2 separate regions of the Homo sapiens genome follow, and region 2 is linked to region 1. The links come from fine-mapping of genetic effects on gene expression. A gene starts in region 1. The other region holds a variant in brackets. All regions are shown on one strand. Distances are between the middles of the regions.

Evidence for each region.
Region 2: its variant is fine-mapped to the expression of HHAT in prefrontal cortex (BrainSeq, PIP 0.95).

The regions. Positions count from the first base shown.
Region 1 is chr1:210,326,379-210,330,774 of GRCh38, reverse strand. It overlaps HHAT (hedgehog acyltransferase), which reads right to left and starts at 1,873. Exons shown (of 12, transcript NM_018194.6): 1 at 1,671-1,873. RefSeq lists enhancers at 15-184, 1,297-1,656, 2,531-2,700 and a silencer at 1,817-2,066.
Region 2 is chr1:210,402,675-210,407,070 of GRCh38, reverse strand. HHAT (hedgehog acyltransferase) reads right to left here. Exons shown (of 12, transcript NM_018194.6): 6 at 2,392-2,607. Among named protein-coding and RNA genes, the nearest start is that of HHAT, 76 kb to the right of the region's middle. The variant C/G (reference allele first, on the strand shown) is at 2,542.

The sequences.
Region 1 (4,396 bases):
CCAGTCCATGAAAAACTTATTGTCCATGAAACCGGTCCTTGGTGCCAAAAAGGTTGGGGACCACTGCTTTAGGGAACATTCCCCCTGGGCCAGGTCCTAAGCTGGAAGCAGGGGGTGCAGGTAAGGCCCATGCTCGCAAGTTCCTGATGCTACCTACAGAGCTCCCACCAACATCTGGCCACCCACAAAAACGGCTGCTCCCTCCAAAGAATTGACTTTCACCCTAAGTTCATCCATCTAACCTACTTCCAAGGAGGGGGCAAAGTAAACAGTAGATAAAGCACAGGCGTTGATCCAAAAGAGGAGTCCAAAACCCGGCCCTGACATGTACTAGTTTGTGGCTTTGGCTCCCCTCCAAGGCTTTCTCTATCCTACTGTGAAAAGAGATAACAACACTTATCTTTCCCAGTTACTGTAAGGTTTAGAAATAATGTATCTAAAGCACCTAATAAGCACACAGTCTCCTTAAATTAACATTAATTGAATCTCTCAGGTCAGAGCTGTCCTTATCAAACAATCACAATTAGGGACTGACTGGCAACGAGAAAGGAGGGAGAAAAATCACAGGGAAAATGGAACATGAGGAATGGAAGGGGAAAAAAATCATTCCTCAAAGTCTCCTTCAATGAACTACCGCCTCTTCAATGAAGCCTTCCCTCTCCTCTCCTTGCATTCCCATAGCACTTAATCACATTGAAATAGGTCCTTAGCTCTGAGAATGAATGAGATGCCAGGCACGGTGGCTCACGCCTGTAATCCCAGCACTTTGGGAGGTCGAGGTGGGCAGATCACCCGAGGTCAGGAATTCGAGACCAGCCTGGCCAACACGGTGAGACCCTCGTCTCTACTAAAAATACAAAATTAGGTGGGCGTGGTGGCGCATGCCTGTAATCCCAGCTACTCAGGAGGCAAGGCTGGAGAATCGCTTGAAACCGGGATGCTGAGGTTGCAGTGAGCTGAGATTGTGCCATTGCACTCCAGCCTGGGCGACCAGAGCGAAACTCCGCCTCAAAAACACAAACAACAACAAAAACAGAAAGAGAAGCAATGTCTCACTCCCACGTAATGCAAACCTCTGAGGATGCCAAATGCCCTAGCCCTACAACCCTGATCCAAGAGCAATGTACACAGGTAGCAGCACATTTCTTAACACCAATGCTACCCGTAAAGTACCTCTGGTGAGGATTAGCGGGAGGGTTTTTCCGCATAAAGACCTGCCACCTGAAGGTTAGACTCAGAACAGAGGAAGAAAACTGAGTCCTGAAGATAGAACGCAAAGGAAGTCTCTAACTTTAGAGTCCCTGGAGTCACAGCAGGCAGGCAGGCGCACCGCCGATACTGCCAAGAGGACCAGAGTTCGCAACTCCCCGCAGCAGTTCCGGAAGCTGGGGACGAAGCCAAGGAGAGAGGACGTGGGCAGGGCCGTGCGCGGACTTGTCCCGGCGCCTAGATCCCCGCCTTTGCCCGGGCGCACTGCGCGCGCGGCCCCCGCCGCTTTTGTCTTCTTCGCCCGACCGGGAACTTCCTCTGTCCCGCCCTCGGGCGCGCACACGGGAACTTGGGTAGGAAACGGAAAGCGTTTTGTGCATTTTTTTTTTAACAGAGTAAACTGACGCAGAAAATTCAGCATCTAACCTCCCCAGGACCCCCTATGGTCACCAGTTACCAACCTCCGGGCTGTCCCGGGCGGCGGCGACGGCAACGTTCACGCGCGCCGCGAGTTCCCAACACCCCTCTTTCGGCACTTCCGAGTCCCAGCGACATCGGCGGCGGCTGCGGGCTTCCCCGGGACGCCACCCTCTTTCCCCCGGAGCTGCCCTTTGGAGGAGCAGCGCAGCGCGCGTCCTCCGAGCACGCCCCTGCCGCCGTGCCCGCGCGCCCTCCGCGCCCGGACTCGGGAACCCGCGGCGCTCTCCGGGCGATGGCGAGCAGGCCGTGCTGCTGCAGGGGGCGGGCCAGAGCGCGGCCTGCGTTTCTGAACCGCGTTTGCCCCGCCGGCGGCCCGGGGCCCCTAGCCCCGCTCACCCCTCGGCTGTTGGTTCCCACTGACCCTGGCGTGCATATCTCTCCCCCACCCGTGTGTTCATTGCAGGTCTGGGGCTGCCTGCAAGTTAATTGCAGAGTGGAAGTCACCTGAAACTCGAGGTGGGCCGTCATTCCAACACCAGTGGTCCCCACCTACGTTTTGTAGGCGAAAGGAGGTAGTTCGGTGCGGTGGAAAGAGGGTGGGCTTTGCAGCCCTGGCAGCTTCGAGGGCTTACTGTGTGAACTTAGCCCCTGTGAGCCTCCCTGTACACCTCTGTAAAACAGAAATAGACTTCCCTGCTTTTCTTTGTAAATTAGAGTGAAGATCAAATAGAATAAACTTTATGAATTGTAAAGCAACTTACAGAGATCACTACTGCAAAATGGGTACGAAGATTTTGATTGCGTTGTGAAAAGAGTGGAAGATCTGAAGATGCTCCAACGGGGTATAATTGGGACGATGTTGCTGCTCGGAGGCCTCCAAGCCTGAGCCAAGAGACAGGCTTGCCAGAGTTCTCCAGACTTATCTCAGCAGAATCACGTGGCTCTCATTAAAACCTCGGGCTTCTGGATCCCTCCCCAAACCAAAAGCATCAGACTGTCCATGGCAGGGGCGTCTCAGGTGGTTCTATGATAAGGTGAAGGTGGATAACTCTGCCCTAGGCAGCAGGGAAACTCGGAAGCTGTGCTCTCAGAAATTTCATCTAGCAGTCATTGTAATGGTCGAGAGGATTATTTTAATGATTTTAGAATTCTCCAGGAAACCAGAGTATGAACTCTCCAAGAGCTGGAGCTATCTTTTCTTTCTGCTTCCCCCCAACCCACTCACCCCAAAACCTGGTACTGGATGGTGTTCAGTAAGCAGGTGTTAGTAAACTAGCCCCAAATAGGAGTGCCAGATTTAGCAAATAAAAATACAGCATACTCAATTAAAATTGAATTTCAGGCTGGGCGCGGTGGCCCACGCCTGTAATCTCAGCACTTTAGGAGCGGTAGCAGGAGGATCACTTGAGGCCAGGAGTTTGAGACCAGCCTGGCCAACATGGTGAGACCCCGTCTCTACTAAAAATACAAAAATTAGCCGGGTGTGGTGGCCTGCACCTGTAATCCCAGCCACTTGGGAGGCTGAGGCACGAGAATCGCTTGAACCCGGGCGGCAGAGGTTGCAGTGAGCTCAGATCGCACCACTGCACTCCAACCTGGGTGACTGAGCCGGACTCTGTCTCAAAAAAATAAGTAAATAATTTCAGGTGAACAATATGTAACTTTTTAGTATCACTATGACCCATGCAATATTTGGGATATACTTATTTTTTTTAAGTACTTACAGGAAGCTTGTAATCCCAGCACTTTGGGAGGTCGAGGTGAGTAGATAACTTGAATCCAGGAGTTCGAGACCAGCCTGGCCAACATGATGAAACTCCATCTCTACCAAAAAAAAAAAAAAAAAATGGTATATCTGAAATTCAAATTTACATCCTGGGTATCTGAAAATCAAACTTAACTGGGTATTTTATCTGTCAACTCTAGATCCAAGGGTTTGGCAGAGGGAGTGGCAGAATAAGAACTCAACTCAGGTAGTGTCAAACTCAGGGACAGGGATGTGATAACAGCTCCTATATTATTTCTAAAAGATGCTGTTGTTAATATAGGTTCAGTGTGATTTACACTTAACCCCTGTCTACATATGCACTTTAAATTCACCGGCGAACACAAAGGAGATAAAGGCAGATTTAAACACAGGCAATCAGAAACATCAAATAAAAATAGCCAAAATTTATGTGTGTGTGTATATATATATATATATATATATATATATATATGTATGTATTAGAGACAGTCTCACTGTGTCACCCAGGCTAAGCACAGTGGCATGATCTCAGCTCACTGCAGATTCAAGCAATTCTTGTGCCTTAGCCACCTGAGTGGCTGGGATTACAGGCAAGCACCAGCCACCACACCTGGCTATTTAGTAGAGACAGGGTTTTGCCTTGTTGGCCAGGCTGGTCTCGAACTCCTGGCCTCAAGTGATGCACCTGCCTCAGCCTCCCAAAGTGCTGGGATTACAGGTGTGAGCCACCATGCTTGGCCATAATAGCCAAAATTTAAAGATAAGCAATAGACTGGGATATTTGCAAGAAATTTGCAAAGTGTTAATTTTAAAATTATATATAGAGTTAATACAATCAATAAGAAAACATTAGAAATCAATTATAGATGAGCAAGACACATTTATAGACAACCCACTAGAAAAAGGAGGAGGGAAATAAAAGTAGGAAACAAAAATATATTGCAAAAAGCTCAATGAAATGCATAGTAAAACAAGAACATGGTGGCTCACGCCTGTAATCCCAGCACTTTGGGAGGCCAA
Region 2 (4,396 bases), 76 kb before region 1:
GGCTTTTTAAATTTGCCCTATATCTTACTGAACATTTATCCTTTTCTAGAATGACTATTCTATGAATACTCCCCCAAACATAGAGGTTTTAATTTGCCCTTTCAAGTTCCCTGCTGTCAGCAATTGCTATTGTTTTAGAAGGGGTTAAAAAAGAAGAGAGAGAGAGGGAAGGAAAAGACATGGATAAAACCCAGAGTGTCTATACCTGGCCCCTACAGGAAGCAACCTGCCCCTTCACTTCCCCAGAATGAGACTCAAGAGAATGAGAACCCTTGGCTAAGGATTTAGGTGGAAGATAATCTTAAAGCGTGCCTCTGTGTGACACAGGACCCTGCTAGAGGCCTCTAATATTCTTACTAGACCCTAAAAGGCACAATTTGAAAAGGGAGGCCAGGCTCAAGCCTGTAATCCTAGCACTTTGGGAGGCTGAGGGCAGATTGCCTGACCTCAGGAGTTAGAGACAAGCCTGGGAAACATAGCAAAACCCGGTCTCTACTAAAAATACAAAAAATTAGCTGGACTTGCTGGTGCATGCCTGTAATCCAGCTACTCAGGAGGCTCAGACACGGGAATCACTTGAACCCAGGAGGTGGAGGTTGCAGTAAGCTGAGATTACACCACTGCACTCCAGCCTGGGTGACAGAGTAAGACTCTGTCTCAAAAAAAAAAAGAAGAAAAAGGAGATGAGAAATAACAGAAACAATTATTTTGCATAATAACAAAGTACAGAGCATACAGGCAAAGCTTATATACAGGAGGAAGTTAGGAAAATAATCTGTTTCCTTCTAATGGATTTAGTTTATGTTTCTCTGAAAATTACCAGCCATCCTCAGGAGAGGGGTGTCTGTGTGTGGATGTTTGGTCCAAAAGTTATTGGCTGGCAAACTGAGAATAATTCAAAAGTTCACAAAGGTAAGGAGATTGTAAAAGAGAGGAACCCACCCTATGCTGTGCCCACCTTACCTTTACTCCCACCCTCCTCCTGGAGGGCCTGTTAAACCACCTTCCTGGGCTTTATCCCTAGAGGCTGTGATTCAGGAGGTTGGAGAGGACCTGAGAATTTGTATTTCTAACAAGCTCTCTGGCGATACTGATGCTGCTGGTCCAGGAACCACACTTTGCAAATCATTGAGTTAGAAGATCAGCTGCCATCATTAAACCATCTCTTTTACACAATAATTTTAAACACAATTTCAAATGCAGATTTTAAATTCCTTCATGACAAAAGAACGATCCCAAACCGAGGTATGAGAAACCATAGACTAAACATATCTGTCTAGAATATCAATTTCACTTACAGATTTCTAGAGATATAAAAAGTTACATACTTTCACTGGAAATTTTAGAACATTATGTTATTGTTATAATGCAAAAATATATTCTTGAATACAATGCATAATTCAGTGGAACTTTGAGGACAAAATAAGATTTCTAAGAACCCTCCTTTTTCAGGGAGCAACTTTCATGTTGCTGCCCAGAAATGTGCAACACTGCTGCTTGCCCTGCCCTTCCAGGTGTGTGCGTATGCGTGGGTATGTGTTCTGCGTGTGCATGCATGTCTGTGTATGCACGTACATGTTATTTTCTCCTCTATGAGGATTGTTTTGTTGGTGAGGGATAGAATATCCCTTGAGAACACTGTTTTAGGCATTTTCAATTACTAATTCCTTAGGTGAATTAACTTAGCAATTATGTTCCATGAAACTAGAGGTAGGTTGAGGAGGCAGAAAAAAAAGAAAGTTCTAAACAAGGGGGAAAAGTGAAGTAGGGGGGAACAACAGAGGTAGCTTAACATGGCATTTCAGACAAGGATGCCGTCCGAGGAAGGCAGGCGGGGGCCTGGGCACAAAGGGGGATCCAGACATGAACACACACCACTGCCTTCGAACTTACTTCAACTCCACTCTGTTTTCACACCTAGGTCACCCTGAACAGCTCCCAGGCTATGGCAGGACTATTTCTTAAGCAGCTTGTGAATATAAAAGGAAACATACTATTTGCCAAGCAACAGCTTAGACAGTTTCCTTTTCTATTCCTTCAAGTAATAGCATCATAATCAAATTTTTTTCTTTCCTTGGGACTTTGCCACAGTGGATACCAACTCCCAAACTCCTTGTTGTGCCCTACTCATTAATCCTGGTTGCCAGAGTTCACTGAAAATCAAGGTGGGACCCCCTAGAGCTGACATATCTGATGGGTCAAACTTTATTTTAAAGGCTCATTTCTCATATGTATTTCATCTATTACAAAAAACCTCATGAGAACTAATAGTATGTGTTGTAAATCTGTGGGCACCTCTGAACAAAACGACTCAAGAGTCAGAGAAGACCAGAGCAACAGCGACAAAGGCTTAAGCTATAGAATCCCAATCCCATCCCCAGCGGGCTCTACCTGTTTGATGAACTCCGAGAAGCTGAGGATGGGCCCATTGTGTAAGACTGGATAATAAAAGACATAGGCCAGCATCCAGGGAAAGGAGTAGGAGGTCGATGCAGCAGGCAGCTGCTGCCAGCAGAGCTCCAGGCTGAAGCTGGTGTAGTA[C/G]AGGCAGCGAACGGTCAGCGTGAACTGCAGCAGGTAGTACTCGTTTTCTGTCTTGTACCACCTTCTCTACAAAATCAAAAGGAGAGAACAACCTTTGAGTGGCCAGCAGGGACATCGTCCAGTCCCACTGCAGGTGCTGGCCAGCAGGGCCACCGTCATCTGAGAATCCCAGGGGGCTCTGGGAAGGCAATTTCTTCTTCAGGCAGAGCAGCTGTGCCATAAAAGGCAGTCGAGAACCAATGAACACCAGGTAAATCTCATTGGTAATCAAAGCAAGCAGTTAATGAGCAGTAGGAAAAAGGACATCTCTAATGTTAACCTAGCATTAGGTCTGACACAACATAACGAAGGTTTTCCCAGTTAGGCATGTATCAGATACATCCAGGGCATAAGGTGCAGATTAGCTACATCCAGTGGATACTTTGACAGCTTCTTCAACAATTCAGATAACAAAGAGGGGCTTAAAATGTCCCATGGGATTTCTGTCTTCAATGTATTTTTCGTTTTCCTCTTTTGTTATCAGTTTGGCTCTACATTTAGTTGAGTAGCATTTGTCTAATAAGCTTTACAGACAAATATTTAAAAAAAAAAAAAAAAAGTCCCTGCCCTCAATATGTTAAATTCTCATACAGGACGTAGATGTGTAAAAATGCAATTACAATAGAGCATGAAACAAGAAATAACCTGTGCAAAAATATGCATGGAACAAAAAATGAGAAGGAAATACAATAAAATGTTAATATCGGGGAGTAAAATTATGAAGTATTTTCTAATTTCTATATTTTTCTACATTTTCCATGTTTTCCAAAAATACATTTAGTGAGAAAAACTATTTATGGAAATACATACGAGAAATAGAACTTGGGTCAAAGGAGAAAGTAATTAACTTGATCCATCAGGGTCTCTTAAAGCTGTACACAGAAAAACCAACCACTGAACAGAGTTTCTACTTCTTGTACAAGACTTTAGCAGCCACCAAGGGAAAAGAGGATAATCATATCAGGAGAACCACATGTGCAAAAGCATGGAAACCCAGCTAGTTTCTAATCACATGATCTCCTTCCTCAGTGTTTTTCAAATCACTGTAAAATTTGCAGAACAAATGAACATTTATTCACCTCCAACATCTATAACTGATGCTAATTGTCCCCAAATAAATGATAAATGGAATTAGATTCTGTTTGTACACTTGCCAGGTCCCCAAAAGGTTAGGTATGAGCTTGTTTTTATTTTTACTGTAAATCTGTTTTTAAGCACACTTGCCTAAATGGTTGCCTAATCATTCTGGGAAGTATCTTCATTAAAACGGAGTGATTATCTGATATACTCTCATAAGTCCAGATTTTGACATACGTGCTTAAAATGCTAGCCCCACATCATTAATGAGAGTGAGAAAAATGAAGGTAGACTAAAAACAGCAAAAAATACTTGAACTTTCAAAATGCTACAATTTTCACAAAATCACTTAACATAGATTATCCCGTTTGACTCTCAGAACAATCCCATGAGGAAGGAAGAGGATTTATTACTTCTGTTTTCCAAATGATGAGATTGAGGCTCAGAGGTTAAATGACTGCTCCAGCTTCAGAGTAGGAAGAGATGGGGAATAGAATAGACTAGGAACCAGGTCATCCATCTCACATTTCCCATCATGTTCCTTCCCATCACTGTGTTGATGCAGGGCACATGAATGCTAAGTGTTGTCACCTGGATCAATGAATGAGTGACTGAATGAATGAATAAAAAGATACCACAGGAGTTCCAGTCCCACAGTGATTGAAGAAAGAATACCCAACACTGCCCAAGATTTTGAATGTGCCTATGGAGATCCTAGGGGGTTAGAGGAAGGGATAGG